Regions from separate parts of the Homo sapiens genome. Here regions 1 and 3 are each linked to region 2. The links come from fine-mapping of genetic effects on gene expression. A gene starts in region 2. Each other region holds a variant in brackets. All regions are shown on one strand. Distances are from middle to middle. Region 1 overlaps DENND4A (DENN domain containing 4A). Region 2 holds the start of HACD3 (3-hydroxyacyl-CoA dehydratase 3). Region 3 holds the start of INTS14 (integrator complex subunit 14).

Region 1 (8,186 bases), 170 kb after region 2:
TAAGGTTGTTATTACTATATGAGACTATATATGAAAAATGTTTATAAACTTGTAAAGCACTCTCTAAAGAAATTATATTATGTATCACTAGATATTCACTTTAATATCGTTGTTATAATTTTCAGTTTTTATTTTTTCTAATCAAACTTCAGGTCCATTTTTAAAGGAATTATAAATAGAAAAATCTGAGAATAATCTTGATGAAATTCATGCTTTTATTAGGTTTTACACTATTTTAAGATAGCCTTTTTTTTTTTTTTTTTTTTTTTTTTTTGAGACAGAGTCTCAACTATGTTGCCCAGGCTGGAGTGCAGTGGCGTGATCTTGGCTCACTGCAACCTCCACCTCCTGGGTTCAAGCAATTCTCGTGCCTACGCCTCCCAAGTAGCTGGGATTACAGGAATGTGCCACCATGCCTAGCTAATTTTTGCATTTTTAGTAGAGATGGTGTTTCGCCATGTTGGCCAGGCTGGTCTTGAACTCCTGGCCTCAAGTGACCTGCCTGCCTTGGCCTCCCAAAATGCTAGAATTACAGGTGTGAGCCACTGCACCAGGCCTAAGATAGCCTTTTTAAAAGCCACAGTTAAAAGATAAGATTTCTTCATTTGTAAGAGATAATGCCAAAGGATAACTATTGTAACTGATGAAAATCACACTGCATAATCAAGGAATAAAATCAATCAAGGAAGAATAACTATGAATATTACATTTCAACAAAATGAGCTTACATTTATTAAACTTTAGGTATAAAGTAAGACAGACCAAAATAATATTGACATTTGCAGAGATAGGGGCCTTCATATTTTATTAGTAATGCTTCAATTTTTAAAGTTTCTGTCCTTTAAGAGTTTGCTCTTATCTGTAGTCAAAAGTCATGTGTAATTTTTGAAATGTAATAATAAAAAGAACAGAATTATGTAAATAATTTATTTTTAAGTGTGTCAATTGTAATAATAGTTAAGAAAAGCTGATATACGAACTTATACTTCTATGAAATTAATGCCATCTTCGGCACTATAATTCTAGCACTGAAGTATACAATTCTATATACACATATATAAACATACACATAAGATATATAATTCTATATACACATATATAAATACATATACATATGTGTATATGTATTATACACACATGTTATACATATACTACTACACATACATATATAATATTATACATATATTATTTTATATATATATATAAATTTTTTTTTTGAGACAGGGTCTCGCTCTGTCACCCAAGCTGGAGTGCAGTGGCTTGATCATGGCTCACTGCAGCCTCAACCTCCTGGGTTCAAGCAATTCTCCTACCTCAGCCTCCCTAGTATCTGGGAGCACAGGCATGGGACACCAAGCCCAGCTAATTTTTGTATTTTTGTAGAGACAGGGTTTTGTTATGTTGCCCAGACAGTCTCAAACTCCTGGGCTCAAGTGAACCACCCACCTTAGCTTCCCAAGGTGCTGGGATTACAGGCATGAGCTATCACACCCAGCCTTAAAATGCTATATTTTTATATATTTAAAATTTTTTATTATGACTTTTAAAATCACTTAAGATTTAGAAGTTGCAAAAACATTACAGTACAGAGAGTTCCTTGGTACAATTCACCTAGCTTCCCCCCATGATAATACCTTACATAACCATAGTACATTGTCAAAACCAGGAAACTGATGTTGGTACAATACTATTAACTTAGACACAGAGCTATGCTTCTTTTTTTAAAAAACTCTAATATCATTTTCATAATTTCAAAGAATTTATTATAAGAAAATGATAGGGTAAACAGATCTATGTCTACGCAGAGTTAACTGGATTATCATATACTAAATACTTGAATAAAGTGATTTATAACCTCTCTTAAAACTTTTATTTCTATTCAAATAAAGAATGAATAAAATTTCATATAGTTATTAAATCTAATATCAAATAAAATACATAATATATAAAATTAAAAAGTGACAGTTAAACATCACTGAAAATGAAAATGTAAAAAAACATAGGCTAGCAAATCTAGTTTTAAAAATGTACTATAATAAATGTATACATAAGCATACACAAACCTGTACTAGATCTATCATCAGTAGCATATACTTTGATTAAACCCGTATTAAAAGGTGCCTGCTCCACAGTGTGTGTCCCATGACCACTATCCATGCTGCCATGACTAACAGCATCCAGGTCACTGCCATCTGCTTAAGAACACAATTTGACAGCATTTTACTACTCGAAGAGGTAAATACACATTAATTTGTTGCTCAAGCTAATAATCCACCAATGTAATACTGAACATGAAAAGTGCCACATACTTAGCAAAATACAACTATAACAAAGAAACCTATTGTGAGTTATTAATGAACACTAAAACACACACAAAGGTCGTCAGAAGTTGAAACATTTAAACAGAAGTGAAATCTGGTGGTTTTTAAATGGGAAGAGTAATATAATTTGCTTAATAAAACTAAAAACTAAAACATTCAATATTTTAAAACTATTTAAAATTTCTAAAAATGTAAACTGTAGCTAATCAATTAATTTTGAAGAACAAGTAAAACACATACATCCCTTACCTGAGAGAGTTGTTTGTGATAAGTGTGCATGCTTCTTTAAAGCTCTTTTGAACTGTGTTACTCCTAAAACAACATTTCTTACTTTTGTCCAAAGAAAATAGCCACTACGACTTCTTGAAGGCCAGGTACTTTCCAAAACAGCCTATTCATTCAACAAAATAAAATAATTAGTAAAATAATTTTTATAAGTGAACATATATTGGTTTCAGAATTAAGCTAAAGAATATCAAAGTAGGCCAGGAGTGGTGGCTCATGCCTGTAATCCCAGCAATTTGGGAGGCTGAGGCAGGTGGATCACTTGAGCCCAGGAATTCAAGACCAGCCTGGGCAACAAGGTGAAACCCCACCTCTCCAAAAAATATGAAAATTAGCCAGGCATGGTGGCACATGCCTGTAGTCCCAGCTACTCAGGAGGCTCAGGTGGGAAGATCAATTGAGCCTGGGAGGTCAAGGCTACAGTGAACCATGATTGTGCCACTGCACTCTAGCCTGGCGCTAGAGTCTCACAGAGTGAGACCCTGTTTCAAAGAAAGAAAAAATCAAAGTAGATTGTATAACATAAAAGAGAACTAAAGTCTTCCTTGATTGACAAAATGTATTTTATATACTCTAAAATAAATGCCAAATAACCCCCTGCATAAATTATTTCTGCCATTAATGTTGCATAATGACAAAAGTAATACTCTTTATCCATTAAACCAAGGTATTTACCTTATTATAATAACCATAAGTAATGGCATTGGGGTCAATACCAGCTTTCTGCATTTCAAAAAGCACTCGAACTGCAAGCACTGGCTGATCATATTGTCCACAGAGTTGCATAAGAATGCGGTAGCATACCTGAAATACAAGTTCAAAATTGTACCGAA[A/G]CACAGATGTCACCATGTACATAAATCTAGAATAAAATAATGCATTTTAAACAATAATTGTGGCAGGGCACAGTGGCTCATGCCTGTAATTCCAACATTTTGGGAGGGCAAGGCAGGTGAAGCTCTGGAGCCCAGGAGCTTCTGACTAACCTAGACCACATAGTGAGACTCTGTCTCTACAAAAAAATTAAAAAATTAGCCAGGCGTGGTGGCACATGACTGTAGTCACAGCTATCTGGGAGGCTAAAATGGGAGGATTGCATCTCTTGAGCTCAAGAGGTTAAGACTGCAGTGAGCCATGACTGCATCACTGCACTCCAGCCTGGGTGACAGAGTGAGACCCCATCTCAAAAAAATAAAATAACAACAATAAAATAATTGTTACCTCATCAGGTGGATCCATCTTCTTTGACTGCATTTTTTTAAGCACATCATATGCTGTTTTCAGAGCCCTGACTTTTGAATGACAGACTTTCACATAAGCTGGGAGACAAATAAACCACAGTCCATAACAGTGGCGCAGTAGACACCTAGACCACATCTGAGGGATGGAAGAGTACCTCTTTGCAATTTTATGGGCTGATTTAATTTCCTGGAAAAAATATAAAGATCTTACTAATAAATTTATGCACTTAGGCATCTTTATTTAACTGAGTGCTAAACAAGTACAAGTCACATGCTTTTATAATGTTTCCATAACAAAATATGTCTGTAATTAATGCGTTTTCAAGTTTCTTTTTGAATCTGTATTAAACAGCATATAAAATAAAGTTCTAGGACAAGAGAACTAGTTAATTTCTTGAAGTCAGATTGCTCCATCTTCACAGTGCTTTGGTGAACATAATAATCTAGTAATAGTTATATATGAAGTGATAAAGCATATTACGGGAGGATAAATATCCAATTTATTTCTTGTTCTAAAATTTGATTACATGAAGAATGTGATAAAGTACCTGTTTTGTTCTTCTGAACATGGGCAAAGGGCTATTAGGACTACTTGATTTTGAAGGCAATTTGTTCTTCTTTGCTTGTAGAAATCCTTCAGGTCTTTCAAATAAATTGTTCCTAAGAACTGGAAATCCATTATAGCTGTTTTAGAAAAAACAAAACAAAACAAAAAAGAGTTCTCAAGCACACATAGATGATCATAGTGGTTACAGGTTAATATAATTACGACCAATAACTTCTTCACATAGAATTTAACTATCTTTCTTTGTCAGGCTGTGATATACACTCAACAAATATTCATGCTAATGTTGCTCTTCTTACTATAATTAGAAATGTAATAGCCAAATTCAGACTCAAGTTAGTTTTTGAGGAAAAGGGAAAAACATAAATGAACATGACATCCAACTCCAAGGTAACTTTAGCAAACTTTTAAAAGTTAGTACTCTTGTTAATACATAGCAAACATATTAGATAATATGACAGTTGGTAAAAGGCCTACCAAATTAAGACTCTTTCAAAAAGGGCAATCATTAATGTCATTGCTTTGGATTAACATATTTACTGTTGAACCTCCCTTCTTAGAAAGATGCAAATAACAACCTTAGGTTTAGCATATTAGCACACCAGGCCTTGCTCTCACATTCTCATGAATTGGTTTGTCAGGTTAGCTAGTGGGTTCAGGGCATCATTTATGAGAAAGAAAATTGAGAAGGCTAAATAAGAGGAAGAAAAGGTTAGAATAGGTGCTCTATTAGGAGGTAAACCTAATAAGGGTGCGAGACCAAGATGCTCTGGACATTTCAAAGCTAGCAGCTAGGCTGGGTGCAGTTAGTGCATGCCTATAATCCCAGTTACTCAGGAAACTAAGGCAGGAGGACTGCCTGAGCCCAGGAATTCAAGGCTGTAGTGCACTACGGTTCTGCCAGTGAACAGCCACTGCACTCTAGCCTGGACAACATAGTGAAACTTCATTAATAAATAAGTAAATAAGTGAAAGGCAGCAGTTAGGAAAAAGATATGCTGAAAGAAACCAAAGCAGCCCCCTGAGCAATACACTTAACCTGTTTAAGAATACTATGTAATATTTTCTTAAAAGCACATAGTTTTAATTAAGAAGAAACCTAACTATAATAAAAGAGGGTAGACAATATTTTTTACACATTACTATAGTCAAATTCCATAGAATAAGAAAATATTAGTAATGATTCAATGTTGAGTAGGAAACAGCAAAGAAATCCAGGAAAACCATGCCCCTTAAAAAATTCATTGTATGTATATGATGAGATAATAAGACCATTTTGTGTGTCTTATTTCAAATGCCTCATTATTTTACAAAGACAATGTAAGTTTATGAGTAATCTCTTATGAGGCAGACTCTGTGCTCATTAAGGACATTTACGGTGTTTTCCCAATTATGGTAATGATTATACCAAAATTATATTGGTAGTCTGAAGAAAAAAACCGACAGATTCTTAAAAAACAGAAACGTCTTCAGATAAGTAATTTTCTTATTATTTTATTTTTTGATTTATGTCTGTTCCATCGCCCAAGCTGGAGTGCAGTAGCTCAATGATGGCTCACTGCAGTCTCAACCTCCCAGGCTCAAGTGATCCTTCCACCTCAGCCTCCTGAGTAGCTGGGACCACAGGTGTGCAGCACCACGCCCAGCTATTTTTAAAAAATTATTTATAGAGATAAGGTCTTGCTATGTTGCACAGGCTGAAATAATGTGGTTTTTTTGGAGATAGAGTCTCGTTCTGTCACGCAGGCTGGAGTGCAGTGGCACGATCTCGGCTCACTGCAACCTCCACCTCCCCGGTTCAAGAAATTGTCCTGCCTCGGCCTCCCAAGCAGCTGGGATTACAGGCACCTGCAACCATGCCTAGCTAATTTTTGTATTTTTAGCAGAGACAGGGTTTTCACCATGTTGGCCAGGTTGGTCTCGAACTCCTGACCTCAAGTGATCCGCCCACCTCAGCCTCCCAAAGTGCTGGGATTACAGGCATAAGCCACCGCGTCTGGCCAAATTTTCTTAGAGTTAAAGGACTAAATCTAAAAATAAAATTTAAATTAAAAAGTTAAAACCAAACCACAGAAACACAAAACTCGAAGTGACACATACCAAAAGACAAATAAGCATAAAGTACAAAAGAGATTAAAAAATGAGAACTTGTTTAGAAAGACAAAGAGAGGAAGAGAGAAATTAAGAGAAATATTTTAAATATCTTTGACAGAAGACATTTAAAAAGTGATACAAACATCATCATCACTGGATGAAAAGAGTAGAAATCAAGTGGTCTCTGATTAATCAACATTCATAAACATCTATCACACCACTTTTTCATCTGTAAAAGGAAGAATTTAATCCAAGTCATAAACAAAGATGTCATTGAAAAATCCTTTTTCAATGAAAATAACAAACCATGATTCAATGGGTGATAGATGTGAAATGGTTTTTAGAATCTTTAAACAAAGTAAGAAAATATTATTGGAGAATTAAGAAATCTTTTAAACTCTAAAAGAAACTACAATTTTAAGTAAAAATAAATGCATATTGGGAACTAAATAATGCATTCACCTCTATCATAGCCCTTATTTTACTGTGCTCAGGACTTTTCTCTCTTCTTCACTAGACTTGAAGGCAGGGACAATATATCGTTTAAGTCTGTATACTTAGCACAGTGTCTAACCAAATTCCCTAAATTAACAATGATCAATTCTAATAATTCTGAATTTCCATGACTTAAAACTCATGAAAAAAATTAGTAACTTAAAAAATTATATCGTACAAATCAAGGCCACGAAGATTGGCTCTAAATTAGATTTAATCTTTTTGTAAACCAAGGCTATATTAATCAATCTGTGTATGAGATGAAAAGAGGAATTGAAAGTGAGGAAACCAGCTTTAACGAAAAAAAAATCAAAATTCTAGTGCTGCATTTGGTGTGGGGAGTCTAACTGAATGTAATCAACATTTACAAGGAGAGATACTTATGCAGACATCATTAGAGAGCTTCCCAAGTCTATATTATGCAAAATTATATATGTTTTCTTTTTATACCTCAAAGCTTAATAATGGATGTGGGATAAGCTTGCTTACCACCTAAAAATTAGGGATCTGTAAAGTTTGGATTTTTGAAAATACCACAGTCCTTAGAAAGCTACGTCACAGATGATGGATTGCTTCTCTCTTTCAATCTCAAACATTCTGCCTCTTGAATACCTGTACTGTAAAGGGGGTTCTTCACCATTGGGTAGGTGGGGGATCTCAGGTGGTGTTACAAAAACAGTGTGTTCACTTTTGAAAGATTCATCCAGTTCTATAAGTCGTACTTCACCGCTCTTGTCCATATCCACCTAAAGGAGTTTTAAAAACATATATTAAAAAAGCCACATTGGTTAGCCAAGTGTTCATATAAAGGGAAGTGGTTAAATAAACCATCTGCACAATGGATACTAAACAGCTATTAAAAAAGAAGAGTGAGCAAGTTCTCTATGAGTGCCAAAATAATTAAGTGAAAATAGCAAAGTGCAAACTGTAAATAGTATATTACCTTTTGAATAAGAAAAGGGGAAAATAACACACACACACACACACACACACACACACACACACACACACACACACATATATATATATATTTTTTTTTGAGACAGTCTTGCTCTATCGCCAGGATGGAGTGCAGTGGCACGATCTCAGCTCACTGCAACCTCTGCCTCCCGGTTCAAGTGATTCTCCTGCCTCAGCCTCCCAAGTAGCTGGGACTACAGGCGTGTGCCACCATGCCCAGCTAATTTT
Region 2 (8,186 bases):
ATACACCTGTGTAACCTAGCAATTCCCTTCATAGGTATTTATTCCAAGATAATTAAGAGCATTTATCCCCAAAAGACAGGTACACAAATATTCAGAGCAGCTTTATTTGTAATAGCTAAAAACTAGAAACAACACAAATATCCATCGATAGGAGAATGGATAAATAATTTGTGGTATACTCATATAGTCAACTACTACAGAGCAAAACCAAAAACTAAAAGAATGAATTACTGATTCACTCAGCAACATGGATAAATCTCATACACATTATGTTGATGAAAGAAACCAAGGCCCGGTGCGGTGGCTCACATCTGTAATCCCAGCACTTTGGGAGGCTGAAGCGGGTGGATCATGAGGTCAGGAGTTCAAGACTAGCCTGGCCAAGATGGTGAAACCCCGTATCTACTAAAATACAAAAATTAGGGGCCAGGCACGGTGGCTCATGCCTGTAATCCCAGCACTTTGGGAGGCTGAGGCAGGCAGATCACGAGGTCAGGAGTTAGAGACCATCCTGACCAACATGGTGAAACCCCGTCTCTACTAAAAATACAAAAATTAGCTGGGCGTGATGGCGGACAGCTGTAATCCCAGCTACTTGGGAGGCTGAGGCAGGAGAATCGCTTGAATTGGGAGGCCGAGGTTGCAGTGAGCCGAGACTGCACCACTGCACTCCATCCTGGGTGACAGAGCAAGACTCTGTCTCAAAAAAAAAAAAAAGAAAAAAGAAAAAGAAACCAGACACTGTAGGTTCCATTTATATAAAATTCAAGAACAGAACAGACAAAAAAGACTCTATGGTGATATATCAGGATAGTAATTACTGAGAGGCAAAGATATTTTAACATGAAATAACCTCTGGGATACTGGAAATATTCCAGATCTTGATCTAGGTGATAATTACATGGATATATACATATAGAAAAATTCAGCTTAAACTGAATATTTAAGATTTACCCATGTTCTATATGTAAACTACATCTCAATGTTTTTAAAAAGTGCCCCATATTGCATCTGCATTGTAGTAAACACAATACAATAAAATACCTTTATCATAAAAAATATTTTATCGTTAAAATTCAAGACTGTCAACGTCACTGCTTTCATCAACTCATTCTTGGCAGATTGCATTGGTCTCCCATTGCTTTGCCTACTACCAATTCCTCCTCCTCTCTGACAGGTCTTTCTTGCTGAGCACATTTGATTTTACTAATCTCCAGGTTAACAAACTTCCTTGGCTCCCATGTGTCTGTGGGATACAGTATAGGCACCTCAGTGAAGCAAACAAAGACTTTCCTAATGCACCCTCTGCCTTTCCAGATTCAGGGCGACCTCTCTCCTCTATGCCTTTAATCCCTAGCAGCAGAACCTCCTTCCACAACCCTCTCTCTTTTTTAAATTTTAAGACAGGGCCTCACACTGTCACCCAAGCTGGAGTGCAGTGGCGCGATCTCGCCTCCTGGGCTTAAGCAATTCTCCCACCCTAGCCTCCCGAGTAGCTCGGACCCCAGGGGCGCGCCAACCACGCCCTGCTAACTGTTGTATTTTTTGTAGAGACAGTGTATTGCCATTTTTCCCAGGCTGGTCTCAAACTCCTGGGCTCCAGCGATCCTCCCGCCTCGTCCTCCCAAAGTGCTGGGATTACACGCGTGAGACGCTGCACCTGGTCCACATCTTTTCACCTGTGAACGAAGCAAGCGCCCTGTGCTTCCACGGCCTACCTGGTTCTTACTCAGTCAAATTCCTACTCGCATTTCACCATCCCGTTCTCAAGGGTTGGCTCTCAAATGTCTGACAATGGTTCCCACGGCCCTCAGTTCCTATCATCATAAACTCTTTGTGAGCTCAGCACATTCATTATATGAAAACTCTCTATATTTTATTCTGTCCACTCTTGAGCTAAATGTTTCCAGAGAGCTAGCAGAATTTGTTTTCAGCGTTAGATCCCTCTGCTAAACAAACGGGTGCTAATAGAATCACTTTGCTAAATAAATGGGAGCTAACAGGATTGAATATGAGTTCCATTTTTGTCCCAGAGTTCTAGTTTTCATATAAATATTTCTTCCCATTAAATTCTTCTCTGCAGAAGAACTTGGGGATGAAACCCGATACAGACAAGACAGCTTAAGTAAGACATAAATGAGTGTTGTCTCTAGTTTGAGTTTCCTATTTTTTTGAGACAGTCTCCTGCACTGTCCAATAGAATAGCCACCAAAAATATGGATATTTAAGTTTAAATTAGAAGTGAATAAAGTTGGCCGGGCGCGGTGTCTCACGCCTATAATCTCAGCACTTTGGGAGGCCAAGGCGGGCGGATCACCTGAGGTCGGGAGTTCGAGACCAGCCTGACCAACATGGAGAAACCTCGTCTCTACTAAAAATACAAAATTAGCCGGTGGCGCATGCCTGTAATCCCAGCTACTCGGGAGGCTGAGGCAGGAGAATCACTTGAACCCGGGAGACAGAGGTTGCGGTGAGCCGAGATCGCGCCATTGCACTCCAGCCTGGGCAACAAGAGAGAAACTCCGTCTCAAAACAAAACAACAACAACAACAAAAAAAAAACAGAAGTGAGTAAAATTGAAAATTCGGTTATTCAGTTCAAGTACTCAAAAGCCTCATGTGGCTAGTGGCTACCGTATTAAAGAGCGCAATGTGCAATATTTCCATCATCACCTACAGTTTTATTGGGCAGCGCTGCCCTGGTCTTTATTTTCCCTTGTTGGAACGCTCTTCCACGCTGCTCCCACACCATGTCCCCTATCACCATTATTATCCTCATTTCATCTGTAATTACTTGCATCTTTTAATAGGCTGGGAGTTCTAAGACAGAAGGGACTGTGTCTCACTTCTGTTGTTCCAGTGTTTAGCTTTGAAACCCAGGCACACAGTAGGTACTCAGTAAACAGAATGCGAAGGACCGTCCAGAGACACCAGTCCCAAACCCTTTTCCAGGCTGATCGGTCCCCCATAAGTCTCCAGCCTTTTTTATTTTAAAGCTTATTTTAAAGCATGTCCCTGAAGACGAGTGGGGAGAGCAGACCACCCGCTGATTCCAATTCCCTAGGCGGCCGCGGCGAGCTGCGGCGTCTCTGTGCCCCGGCCTGCCCCTATCCCGCCTGCGCCCCGCCCCCGCCCGGCTCGCGCCAAGGCCCGCTGCTGGCGCCGCCGCCATCCCGGCGCGTCACTGCGCAGGCGCGGCCCGCGAGCGTGGGGTATCTCGAGGTGCCGGGTTGCAGGCGCTCAGGAGCGCTAGGGTTTGAGGCCTGCTTTCTGCTCGCGCCAGCAGAGCACTACCTGAGGCAGCGAGGCGCAGCGAGCCTAGCCTCCCCGCGCCCTGGGCAGTGTGGCCATGGAGAATCAGGTGTTGACGCCGCATGTCTACTGGGCTCAGCGACACCGCGAGCTATATCTGCGCGTGGAGCTGAGTGACGTACAGGTAAAGGCCGGGTCGGGCGGCGGGAAGCGCGCGGGATCGCGGCTCCGGGTACCCGCCAGGACCCCTGCCCCCTTTGTCCGCGTGCGCGCCGGAGAGCCTGCAGTGCGCCAACAAGGTCGGCGACGCGGTGCGCTTACGGCGTGCTGGCGCTTTTCGAGGCTCATCTGCAGATCTCGGGCCGGGGGCACAACCCCCCGAGGGCTGCAGGAACCTTCGGGTCCCCAGAGAGCTCGGCCTGGGCCTCTCAGGCTACCCCGGGCCTCTTCTTTGTTCGCAGTCGGCGGCCTTCATGGAGCCCAGGCCCGGCCCTGGCTGCCTGGCCGTCGGGGTTCGAGTTGGCTGGGGCCCTTCGAGATGTGGGATGAGCTTGTTGGGTCAGGGGTGCGGTTGTGACAGCGGCTTGCTGGGCCGTAGCTGAATGCCTGCCGCTGGCCTGAGAGGTCCAGCCAGGCCCCTCGGACGTTACTGAGGCTGGGCGCTGCCGGAGGTGGGGGAGGGGGAGGGGTGGGGGGCCACACCCACCTCGCAACCGTTCAGTGATGGAAATCATTCTCATTACTTTTAATTTTAAAATTCACAAGAGCTGGAGGAAGTGATTTCCCCCTCTGTTCTGAAGGTTGTGAGCTCAGGTTTGCTGAGTTGCACAGAGAACTTAAAAAGTTCTTAAGTTACATTAAGCATTTCTGTTTGAGCTCCTTGGCCCTTAATGTAAGCAAGCTGAAGGCACGTAGTAGTGGAGACTCCAGGACCTGTGTATCCTCATGTCTCTGTCCAAACTAAAGATTCTGGGCTTTGAGAAACTGGAATTTTCATTCTGGAAGGTTCTTTCTTTCTTTCTTTCTTTTTTTTTCTTTTCTTTTTTTTGAGACGGTGTTTCGCTCTTGTCGCCCAGGCTGGAGTGCAATGGCGCGATCTCGGCTCACCGCAACCTCTGCCTCCCGGGTTCAAGGGATTCTCCTGCCTCAGCCTCCCGAGTAGCTGGGATTATAGACGCGTGCCACCATGCCCGGCTAATTTTTGTATTTTTAGTAGCGACAGGGTTTCACCATGTTGGCCAGGCTGGTCTCGAACTTCTGACCTCAGGTGATCCACCCGTCTCGGCCTCCCAAAGTGCTGGGATTACAGGCATGAGCCACCGCGCCCAGCCTCTGGAAGGTTCTTTCTACAGTCATTCTTATTGGAAACTTCTCCTTAACATCTATGGCACTTTGTCATCTCTTTCACTCCATTTAACTCTCTCTGCCTCTGAACAGGCATCTGCTTGGATCACCCGTGGATCCGGTAAAATGTAGGTGCTTTCTGAGTGTCGACTTGAATTTATTGAATTTAATATAATCTTTGCTTCTGGAATATAAACAGTTTTCCTGTTGAAAGATGAAGACAGTAGTGGCCAGAATGCCTTTAAATAGGCTATGACATTGCATGGTGTGTCGTTTAATGTGTTCATCCAGACTGAGGCTATACTTTTGGGTCAGAGTATGAGTAAATGTTCTGTGCTGTCTCCCTCTACTGCTCCACGGTGGTTTAATAGAATAGGAAAAAACAAACAAAATCTTTTGTAGATGGGGATCAAAGTCCCCGTCTAGAGAGGGTTCTTCCAGCAGTCAATAAAAAAGTACGGAACAGGCCAGGTGCTGTGGCTCACGCCTGTAATGCCAACACTTTGGGAGGCCGAGGCGGGAGGATCACCTGAGGTCAGGAGTTCGACACCAGCCTGACCAACATGGAGAAACCCCATCTCTACTAAAAATACAAAATTAGCCGGGCATGGTGGTGCATGCGTGTAATTCACTATGTTGGCTACTCGGGAGGCTGAGGCAGGAGAATTGCTTGAACCCGGGAGGCGGAGGTTGCGGTGAGCTGAGATGGTGCCATTGCACTCCAGCCTGGGCAACAAGAGTGAAACTCTGTCTCAAAAAAAAAAAAAAAAAAGTAACCATCTAAAAATTTTTGGGGAAAAATAAATCATTTTTCCCCCTTATTGAGTTTTTGTTTTCTCTGGGGTTTCACATCTGTAGTTTTGAGGCACCCATATTTCAACTACCATTAGTTTAAAAGCATGATGTTACCCTCATAAAAGAGTGTTTACATGTGTTAGCAATCCTCTAACACATGTAAGGTAGTACAGATTTACAAAGGTGAGTCAGACCCAGCTTTTCAAGGGCATGCTATCTAGAAGGAGGCGTATCATATACAAACAAAAAGTTTTGTGTAGGAGTATGTTTATTGGTAGAATTGGAGTTGGATGTTGAACCAGGTATCTGGTGTTAAAGGAATTTGTTACCTTTCTTTCATTTAGTTAGTGATGACTTCCAGAAATGAGAATTATTTTTGTCAAACTAAGACTGGGAGAATGTTCCAGAAAGAGAAAGGCATAGACTTTTAGACACTTGTAATCTCTGACTTAAGCCGTGTCAATGCCCAAAGGCCACCAATAACACACCCGTAGTTAAACAAGTTGGGTTTATTACTCATTGCATTGAGAGAGCATACTCCATGGGGAACCCTGGGGTGTTTCATTAGGAGGGTGTTAGAACTGATTATAGGATTTGGGTGTTGGTGATTAGGGGAGGGGAGGGTTAAGGAGGTTGGGTTTCACTTCAGATAAGATCCTGTAAGAAAATATGGGAGTTTCGTGGTTGGGTATCTGAATAAATCTTACCTGTAGGGCAGGGAGACTAGTATAAGAACAAAACTGTAATTGCTACAGGAGTAGCAGTCACTCAATTTGGCCAAAGGGTGTTTGGTATTTCGTGAGTGGCATAGCCACTATGTATTTGTCTGTGCTTATAACAAAATTGTGAAATGGCCTTTGTCTCATTTTATGAGGATTTCAGAGTAACCTTGTCTGAGGTTGGTATTCTGTGAGATTGTTTATGTCCCATAGGAGAATAACATGGCCTGGCTGTGAGTGCTATGCCTGCTTCTGGAGTGTCACGGGTTGCCTTTTTTTTTTCTTTCTCAACTGATTGCTCTATGCAGGGCCTGTTGAAACCAGTGGTTTTACATGTGCAGATTTGTTATTTAAAAAAAAAAAAAAGAAAGAAAAGCAGCCGGGTGTGGTGGCTCATGCCTGTAATCCCAGCACTATGGGAGGCCGAGACGGGCGGATCATGAGGTCAGGAGATCGAGACCATCCTGGCTAACACGGTGAAACCTCGTCTCTACTAAAAATACAAAAAAATTAGCCAGGCGTGGTGGCGGGCGCCTATAGTCCCAGCTACCAGGAGGCTGAGGCAGGAGAATGGCGTGAACCCGGGAGGTGGAGCTTGCAGTGAGCCGAGACTGCGCCACTGCACTCCAGCCTGGGGGACAGAGCGAGACTCCGTCTCAAAAAAAAAAAAAAAGAAAAGAAACCAGTGGTTCTGGCTCTGGATGAAGCACTTCATTTATTTGTTCAGTAAAAATCGTTTATGGAGTACCTACTCTTGTCTATCATTAAGCTAGGTGTGGGGTTCTTGGACAGCACTTTAACACTCTCTGCTTTCTATAGCATGACCCACAGCTTATGTGTAAGTGTGAGTTTTAAAGTGTTAAGTTCCAGTTTGGAGGCATTGGCTCTGTCTCCCTCCATCCTGACACAGGGAACTGTCCAGTCATCACATCTCTATTCTGTCTTGGATGCTGCAGGGCTAGTGACTATGAGAGAACACGGCTGATGTGAGGAGAAATGGTGGACAATAAAGACTTCAGCAGTGGCATCGTCTGTGCTTGAGGTGAACGGTAGCAAAGAGGCCAGCTAAAGCAGGGTTACTTTCAAGATTGAATTTACTTTCACGATGAACATAATGAACGTGTTTGTCCCGAGAAACATAGTTGTTAAAGCATTGGTTTATTTACAAGGTGCTTGTTTGTTTTGGGTGTTGTGAGCAGAGAACAGAGCGTAGCTGTGTTTGAGAGCTGTTTGAAAGATATTGTTCCTGTCCTTACCTAACAGAGTCTGGTGGAAAGAGTGCTAACTGAACACATGAGATTGGGTCCTTGTTCTTATTACACTTATGCTCTAGTGACCATGATTCACTTAACCTTTATGAACCTGACGCTCTTCATCCAGACAGATATGAACAGTAGTGCCTAACTCATAGGACCATTTTGAGATTTGAATTGGAAAATGGATTTGAAAGTGCTTTGCAAATTCTAGTGTGCAGTTCAAGTGAGTGATTATGATGATTGCGATATTAAACCTTAGATGAGAGGGATGGTCACAGAGCAATGGAAGAATAGAGCCTATTAGCAGACCTATTCATATATGAAAAGTTAAGGTATGACAAGAGGCGCTCTTACAAATTAATGAGGAGAGAATGACCCATTCAGGAAATTGTACTGGGACAATTGGTAATCCAAATGGCAAAAAGAAAATAAGATCCTGCCTTATGCCATACACAAAAATCAGTTTCAGGTGCATTAATGACCTAAACGCATAAAGAAAAACTACTAAAAAGAAATATAGGAGACTATCTTTATAATATTGGAAAGGGGGAGAATGTGTTAAGCAAGATGCACAAAACACAAACCCTAAAGACAAAGATTGGCACATTTAAGACAAACTTGAAGAAGACATTTGCAGTGCATATCATTGAGAGATGACTAATATCACGACTATTTAAAGAACACCTACAGACCAATAGGCAAAAGACGTATTACCTAATAGAAAAAGGGGCAGATAATATAAACATTTCAGAGTAAAAGGAAACAAGAATGACCAATAAGTCTGAAAAGATGCTTGACTGCAATTATGACCAGGCACATGT
Region 3 (8,180 bases), 81 kb after region 2:
GTATTCATTGTACATAAACTGGCCAATGGTGCTTCAACTGTGAAGGAAAAGAACAAAATTAAAGAATATGTAAGGTCGGGCACAGTGGCTCATGCCTGTAATCCCAACACTTTGAGAGGCCCAGGTGGGCGGATCTCTTGAGGTCAGGAGTTCGAGACCAGCCTGGCCAATATGGTGAAACCCTGTCTCTACTAAAAATACAAAAATCAGCCAGGCATGGTGGCTACTTGGGAGGCTGAGGCACGAAGATCCCTTGAACACAGGAGGTGGAAGTTGTAGTGAGCCGAGATCGTGCCACTGCACTCCAGCCTTCCAGCCTGGGTGACAGACGAAGGCTCCATCTCAAAAAAAAAAAAAAAAAAAAAAAAATTTATACAGCTGGAATTATCTCATGAAATTGGGTAGAAAAGTCAAAATGTACAAATGGAGTTATTCAAAATTATGGATTGAGAATTAGCATAAAGAAAACATTTTGGTGCTCAAAAATAAAAAAGTTTACAGATACACAGACCTGCTCATGGGTATATAGCCTGCTGCTACTCTATTATTAAGCAAACTGTAGGCTACTGACATGATGAAATATCATAAAACTATAAATAAATGACATATGTACTACAGATATCAGAAATACTTATAGAAAGCATTAGTAACTGAGAAAAGCAGGCCCCAGAACTGTATTATACACTGCTTACAACTTCATAAAAATCATAATGCAAATATACAATTAGAGAGATTAGGTGGATATAAACAGGTTAGAAATTTAATGTTCACAACTTTCTTTTTTGGGATTAACTTCAAAACATTTAACAGTAGCCAGATTACTTGTTTAAGGATGGTGCCCAGCTGCAAATGTGTCATATTCTAAAATTCCATTTGTTCTTTTTTGTTTTTGAGACGGAGTCTTGCGACATCTGTCGCCCAGGCTGGAGTGCAGTGGCGCGATCTCCGCTCACTGCAAGCACCGCCTCCCGGGTTCACGCCATTCTCCTGCCTCAGCCTCCCGAGTAGCCGGGACTACAGGCGCGAGTAGCCAGGACTACAGGCGCGTGTCACCACACTCGGCTAATTTTTGTATTTTTAGTAGAGATGGGGTTTCACCACATTGGCCAGGCTGGTCTCGAACTTCTGACCTCGACATTGGCCAGGCTGGTCTCGAACTTCTGACCTCGTGATCCACCTGCCTCTGCCTCCCAAAGTGCTGGGATTACAGGCGTGAGCCACCGCGCCCAGCCAAAATTCCATTTGTAAGTAGGCTGTTTCGAACTCAGAATACACTGGTTCATGGAAACAATGTTTACAACTCAGGTTGTAAGCATAGGCGTAAAAGAAGAAACTGAAAGTTCCTGAAGGATGGTTCACTCAAGCAGTATAGGCCCGACTGAAAAAAAAAAAGTGAGGTCCTGCACAATATTGGTTCAACTACACTATATTAGACCATAACATACGCTCACTAAGGGCAGGGACCATGCCACATTTTGCCCATGATGTCTCCTCAAAACTTATCACAGTAACTGGCACATAGTAGGTGCCCAACAATTTGATAACAACTGATGAACTACCCCTAAATCACCAGATATACCATATATTATTTAGCAAAATACATTATAAATGTTAACTCTGGACACCAGAAACACATTTCCTCTTCTCCTCATTCAAGCAGACATATGGGGGACTCCCTCACGTCTGCCCAGCTCCTGTGGTAGTCCCATTCATGCAGGGAGGCCTTTTTACAAGTTGAGGATCATGAGGAGTACTGCCCTCACCTCTTAGGAGAATGGGAGGAAACAGTTTACACAGACTTAGATCAAATACAAAAAAGCACTTTCAGCCCGTGAAATCTGCTGTTGACAGTGATGACAGCTGGCAGTCTTGCCTTCTCTGAAGACACCTCTGGAGCTGGCTCTTTCTCCCAAGTGATGCATTTGTGTCGACTCCCAAATGCACCTCATTAACAGTTACAAAGTCGTGGGAGATCAATTTAGTACTCAGGTTGGAGTAAAGGAGGGAACTGAAAGTTCCTGAAGGATAGTTCACTCAAGCAGTATAGGCCTGATTAAAAAAAAAAAAGGCCAGGCACGCCTTTAATCCCAGCACTTTGGGAGGCTGAGGCGGGCAGATCACCCGAGGTCAGGAGTTCGAGACCAGTCTGACCAACATGGTGAAACCCCATCTCTACTAAAAATACAAAAATTAGCCAGATGTGGTGGCGTGCGCCTGTGGTTCTAGTACTTGGGAGGCTGAAATAGGAGAATTGCTTGAACCCAGGAGGCAGAGGTTGCAGTGAGCCGAGATCGCGCCACTGCTCTTCAGCCTGGGCGACAGAGCGAGACTCCGTCTTGGGTGGGGGGGAATCCCTGCCCACCACAGTCTACCAATTTTGTGAGCACAACACTATGTATTCCTCACTTGGGTGGATTCTGAGCCCCCAAGTCTCCCACCCCCACCCCCTTCCCACGTGTACTGTTCAAACAACTAGGGCTCTTCTTTCTCAGGAACAGTCTGAGAAATAGGCCCTAGCCACCTATTTGGCCTTGAATACCAAGTGTCCATCAGCTAGACGTTTGTAATTCTTCCCTGAAGGTGATAATTAGCTCATTCATAAAGAACTGATTCTCAGCAGTCTCGCTCTCAAAGCAGGATTCTACCTGAATTTCTAGTGCCTCACCTGCTCTTTGGCTTTCCCGTCAGCCTCCGGGAGTCCCTCCCCAGTTCTCAGATATAATTTCATCTCTAAAAGTCCAGACTGAAAATCACATCTGGGAGATGTATTTTTACCTTAAAAATCAGTCAAGAAAATGTGGGATCTGGAAGTCTCTCTTGGAAAGAGGGGGCAGAGGGGAGCTGAGCAGAGGGCGAAATCGTGCAGTTTACGCGGAGCTGGGGACCCCGAGCCTCAGAGCGAGGGGAGGCCGGGAGCAGCGCCCCGGAACTGGCGCCTCACAGACAGCGCGGGGCGGCCGCCACGGTGGCGGGAAGGCCAAGCGCTGGCCCTGGGTTGTTCTTCACCCATAACCCCTTCACCTGTAACCCCAACAAGCAGCGAAAGGCAGTCCCGGGCCCTCGGCCTCCCCACTCACCCCGTGCCCATCGCCGGACACAGTCCGTCGGCATAAACTTTCCGTCGGCATAAACTTTCCGTCCGCGCGCCACAGCCGGAACTATAAGGCCGCGCGACAGAAGGGAATCCGGCGCCTGCACTCCGCGCTGGGCGGGGCGGTCCTTGGAGAGCTTCAGGGTCGCCCGGGCAGGGTTCTGGCTCATCCCGGAGGGACGCTAGGGGGCGCGGCCTCTCTTCGCGATGGCCAATCCGCGGCCACCCCTCTCCTCCCACAAATCCCCAACTTCTCTCGAG[C/T]CTTGGCTGGGTTTCCTGCCGTGTCTCTCTGCATTGCCCTGAATCTCTCCCCATTCTCGGGCTCTTTCCTTCCCCTTCTGCCCCACTGACCCATGGGCCTCACCTGGCCCGGTGACTCTGTGTCCGCTTCACACTTTTGTCCCCTCACTCCCCTGGGCCCCGTCGGTGCACGAGCCCAACCCTTCCTGCTATTTTCCTCGTCACTCTTTAGCCCCCTCTCTCGTATCCTCTGAACCGGTTGACAGAATCCTCTTCCTGTTCTTTTTAAACTGCAATTCCTGAACTACAAATCCTGGCCGGGCGTGGTGGTTCAGGCCTGTAATCCCAGCACTTTGGGAGGCCAAGGTGGGCGGATCGCTTCAGGTCAGGAGTTTGAGACCAGCCTGGGAAACATGGTGAAACCCCGCTCTCTACTAAAATACAAAAATTAGCCGGGCATGGTAACGAGTGCCTGTAATCCCAGCTACTTGGGAGGCTAACGCACGAGAATCTTGGGGGGAAAAACCCCAAAACTGTAATTCCTGGCTGAGGTATGCTTTGTATATCCTTCTTAGCTGACCTGAGCCCAATTTACCTCAAGACTTGGCCTCTTGGTCTCCTCAGCCCAAATGCTCACTTTATTTCCCCTATCCCCTCTTTGAGGGAAGCAGAGGGCCCTCGTTCCTCTCACCCTGGACAAGGCATGCGTGCTCAGATTTCCCTGTAAGGCAACATGGGCTCTTGCCTGCCACTCTGGCCACCTGGTGTCTCCATTGTAGTCTGTGCCTCAGTGAGGTCCTTAAGAGGGCAAGAGGTGACTTTCTTTCTAACCATGTAGGGAGCCAGGGAATCCCAGCTAGAGATAGGCTTAGATGGATGCCAGCAGGCCCCTGGGTAGTTACGGTTCAAAGAACAATGTGGAACCACATAGGTTACAAAGTGAGTACAGAAAGGCCTCTAGAAGGCCTCAGGCATTTGCCTTTTTCTTTTAGCTGATAGGATGGGGCGAGATTAGGAGATGGGACGAGGAAGGAGGATGCTTTGAACTGAACAGACAAATCTGTCTGACTTCTCACAGCTTGTTATGTGGGAGATTGTGGGGCCAGTTGCTTGTAGTTTTTTCCTGTCCCTGGGAATATCCCTGCCAGCACTGGGGCCAGGGCCCTGCAGACTGCCCTATTTGCTTCAAAACTTCTTTCCCCAACCTGGCTGATCTCACCATGTCAAGACCTAGTTATGCTTGAGCAGGCATTGGGCTCCAGGTAAGTAAGGCTGCAGCCTGATAACTTAGTCATGATTTCTAATCTTGCCCTATTGGGAGGGATGTGGCCAAGAATGTGTGGGTAAGCAAGTGTCTAGTTACCCCTAATGTGACAACGACTTAGCCATAGGGTTACTGTCCTCGTGGTAATTCTGGCTCAGTTGCAGGGTCTGATTCATTACCTTACCCAACCCTAAAGCTTAAGTTAGTTCACTGATGGATGATCAAATCTTGTGACCTAGTTCTTCTGAATAACAGGCTTTGGGAGACTTGGAAAGCAAAAAATCAATATATTAAATTGATGATAAAAGGCACAGCTACCAGGAGGACTGTGTTACTTAGGGCAACTAGTTTGTTTGTTTGTTTTTCCTCCTTAGTGGAATCCCATTACAAATCAGAAGGTTGTTCAGTGACTATAACATCAGAGAACATCAGCACAAAGGTTAGAAGGTTTTAAAGGGGGTGTCTTTCAAGCCATCACTGGCTGATGAATTTCTTTTCCCCACTCAAACGACCCTCAGCATTTGCGTGTTTCCACACACACATTAAAGGAAATCAATAAATAGTTTCCTTTGCATAATCTCTCATTCCCTTTATTTTTTCCTGCCTTGAAACAGTGGACTGCTGTCCCAAAGGCTTTGAAAGGCAGTGTTTGATCCCCAGTCTGACAGAGGAAAGGTTTATGACAGAAAAACCATGGCTCTCACAGGGGCTAGGTACTGGGGAGCTCAAAGGGAAGTCTAGATATCTCAATCTCCCAGAGCACGTGTTGAAAATGCAGATTCCCAGACCTTGCCAAGTGAAATGGAAATGAAATTTCATGACTTCGTGCTTGAGAATCTTTGCTGTTAAGTTCCCAGGGTGATTTTGTGTGTGTGTGTGTGTGTGTGTGGTGACAGGGTCTTTGTCACCCAGGCTGGAGTGCAGTGGCATGGTCATGGCTTCTTGCAGCCTTGACTTCCTGAATTTAAGCAATCCCCCCCAACCTCAACCTCCCACGTAGCTGGGACTACAGGCATGTGCCACCATGCCTGGCTAATTTTTAAATTTTTTGTAGAGATGGGGGTCTCACTATGTTGCCCAGAGTGGTCTTGAACTCCTGATTTCAAGCGATCCTCCCTCCTTGGCCTCCCAAAGTGCCAGGATTACAGGCATGAGCCACTACATTTGGCCCCAAGATGATTTTTCATCTACAGAGATAAGGGATAGGGAATGAGTAAGTGAAGAAAAGGCTGAGGGGTGGGGGAAGAGCAGTGGGCCTACTTCTCTTTTGCATTCTTCCCGCTCTTCTCATACTCCCATGATGTCCTTTGCCCTGCATTTCCCTTTCTGCCCCTGTAGTCTGGAGACTGTTCACTCCCAAATCATACTTCCAAGCTCCAGCCCCTTCCTCTCATCATTACCTCCTCCCTATTTCACTATTTTCACCAAAGCAGAAGTCAATCATAAATATGACCCTTCTGTCTTCTGAAAAAAAATTTTATTATGGAAATTTTCAAACATAGACAAAGATAGGGAGATTAGGATAATAAATCCCTGTGTGCCCTTCACCCAGTTTCTGCTGTCAATGCAATCCTCATCTCGTTTCATGTACACCCCTACCGACTTCTCCCCACATATTATTTTGATGGAGATCCCTGATAGCATAACATTTTATCCAGGAATATTTCCTTATGTATCTTTAAAAGAGAACTTAAAAATATATAATTACAATACCATTATCAAATTTAACATAATTAACAATAAATCCCTAATATCATCAAATATCGAATCAGCTTTCAAATATTCAGTTGTGTCATAAATATCATAAATTTTACTTTTTTACACTTTGGTTATTTGAATCAGGATCCAAGTAAGATCCAGATATTGAAATCCGTTGCTATATCTCAGAAGTCTCTTTTAATCCACAGGTTTCCCCCTCTTTTCCTTCGAAATGTATTTGGAAAACTGTGCTCCCCCTCCTTTTAAAATTGCTCTCAATCCTCTTTCAGTTTTTTCCAGAGCATTTGAGAAAACCGCAAAGCTGCTCTCTATTTTAAATAATGAAAAGACTCACTGAACAAAGAAAAGCTTTACACATTTCCAATTCCAACTAACTTTGCCTCTGCTCTGAAAATAGGGTGAGCTTTATCCATCACTGGATCCCCCAGGGTCTGGCATGTGATGGTGGATATGCATTTGTGGAAAGAAGATAGGAGGGGAGTAAGAGAGGTTATTGGAAAAAAAAGTCAAAGAGGAAAGCAGAGAAAACTTGGTAGATACTACATTTCTCTAAGAAAGTAGAAAGGAACTTCTTTCTTCCATACACTCTTTCCTTTGAAAAGTGCTATAAAGGCCTAGAGTGGTGGCTCTCAGCTCTTCGGGAGGCGGAGGCAGGAGAATCGCTTGAGCCCAGCTGTTCGAGACTAGCCTGGGCAACATAGAAAGACCTTGTCTCTACAAAAATTAAAATTAACCAGGTGTGGTGGTGTGCACCTGTAATCCTAGCTACTCAGGAGGCTGAGGCAGGAGGATTGTTTGAGCCCAACAGTTCAAGGCTGCAGTGAGCTGTGATTGTGTCACTGCACTCCAGCCAGGACAAGATCTTATCTCTAAAAACAAACAAACAAACAAACAAACAAAATGCTATGAAGTCTAAATTTTTAAAGGCCCCTCATGATCTGGGCCCTGACCCAGGCTCACCACTCACTCTCTTAAAACCTTAGTGGCATCTTTCAATGAAAAAGAAGATAAAGCCAAATAAAACTAGTTTTTAAAAACTTATAAAAAGTAATTTGTGAGGCTGGGAGGCCGGGCACGGTGGCTCACGCCTGTAATTCCAGCACTTTGGGAGGCCGAGGTGGGTAGATCACTTGAGGTCAGGTGTTCGAGGCAAGCCTGACCAACATAGTGTAACCCTGTCTCTACTAAAAATACAAAAATTAGCCGGCTGTCATGGCGGGCACCTGTAGTCAGCTGCTTGGAAGGCTGAGGCATGAGAATCGCCTGAATCCGGGAGGTGGAGGTTGCAGTGAACCAACATCATGCCACTGCACTCCAGCCTGGGCAACACAGCAAGACCCTGTCTCAAAAAAAATAATAATTTGTGTCTATGGATAAAAATTCAAAGTTAATTTTAATTTTTTTTTAGTCATACTTTAAGTTCTAGGGTACATATGCACAACATGCAGGTTTGATACATACGTATGTATGTGCCATGTTGGTTTGCTGCACCCATTGACTCATCATTTACATTAGTTATTTCTCCTAATGCTATCCCTCCCCCACCCCCCCACCCCCCAACAGGCCCCAGTGTGTGATGTTCCCTGCCCTGTGTCCAAGTAATCTCATTGTTCAATTCCCACCTATCGGTGAGAACATGCAGTGTTTGGTTTTCTGTCCTTGAGATAGTTTGCTGAGAATCATGGTTTCCAGCTTCATCCATGTCCCTGCAAAGGACATAAACTCATCCTTTTTTATGGCTGCATAGTATTCCATGGTGTATATGTGCCACATTTTCTTAATCCAGTCTATCATTGATGGACATTTGGGTTGGTTCCAAGTCTTTGCTATTGTGAATAGTGCCACAATAAACATATGTGCACATGT

The links. PIP is the estimated chance that this variant, and not a neighbour inherited with it, causes the effect.
Region 1: its variant is fine-mapped to the expression of HACD3 in whole blood (TOPMed, PIP above 0.99).
Region 3: its variant is fine-mapped to the expression of HACD3 in whole blood (TOPMed, PIP above 0.99).

What each region holds. Positions count from the first base shown.
Region 1 is chr15:65,698,481-65,706,666 of GRCh38, forward strand. DENND4A (DENN domain containing 4A) reads right to left here. Exons shown (of 33, transcript NM_001320835.1): 15 at 7,611-7,744; 16 at 4,393-4,528; 17 at 3,825-4,031; 18 at 3,282-3,410; 19 at 2,571-2,712; 20 at 2,064-2,195. Among named protein-coding and RNA genes, the nearest start is that of SNORD13E, 5.6 kb to the left of the region's middle. The variant A/G (reference allele first, on the strand shown) is at 3,440.
Region 2 is chr15:65,527,284-65,535,469 of GRCh38, forward strand. It overlaps HACD3 (3-hydroxyacyl-CoA dehydratase 3), which reads left to right and starts at 3,180. Exons shown (of 11, transcript NM_016395.4): 1 at 3,180-3,435. The coding sequence starts at 3,349. RefSeq lists an enhancer at 1,504-2,004 and a silencer at 3,043-3,262.
Region 3 is chr15:65,608,021-65,616,200 of GRCh38, forward strand. It overlaps INTS14 (integrator complex subunit 14), which reads right to left and starts at 3,111. Exons shown (of 12, transcript NM_001394796.1): 1 at 3,078-3,111. It also overlaps a transcript of SLC24A1 not described here. RefSeq lists an enhancer at 3,029-3,188. The variant C/T (reference allele first, on the strand shown) is at 3,353.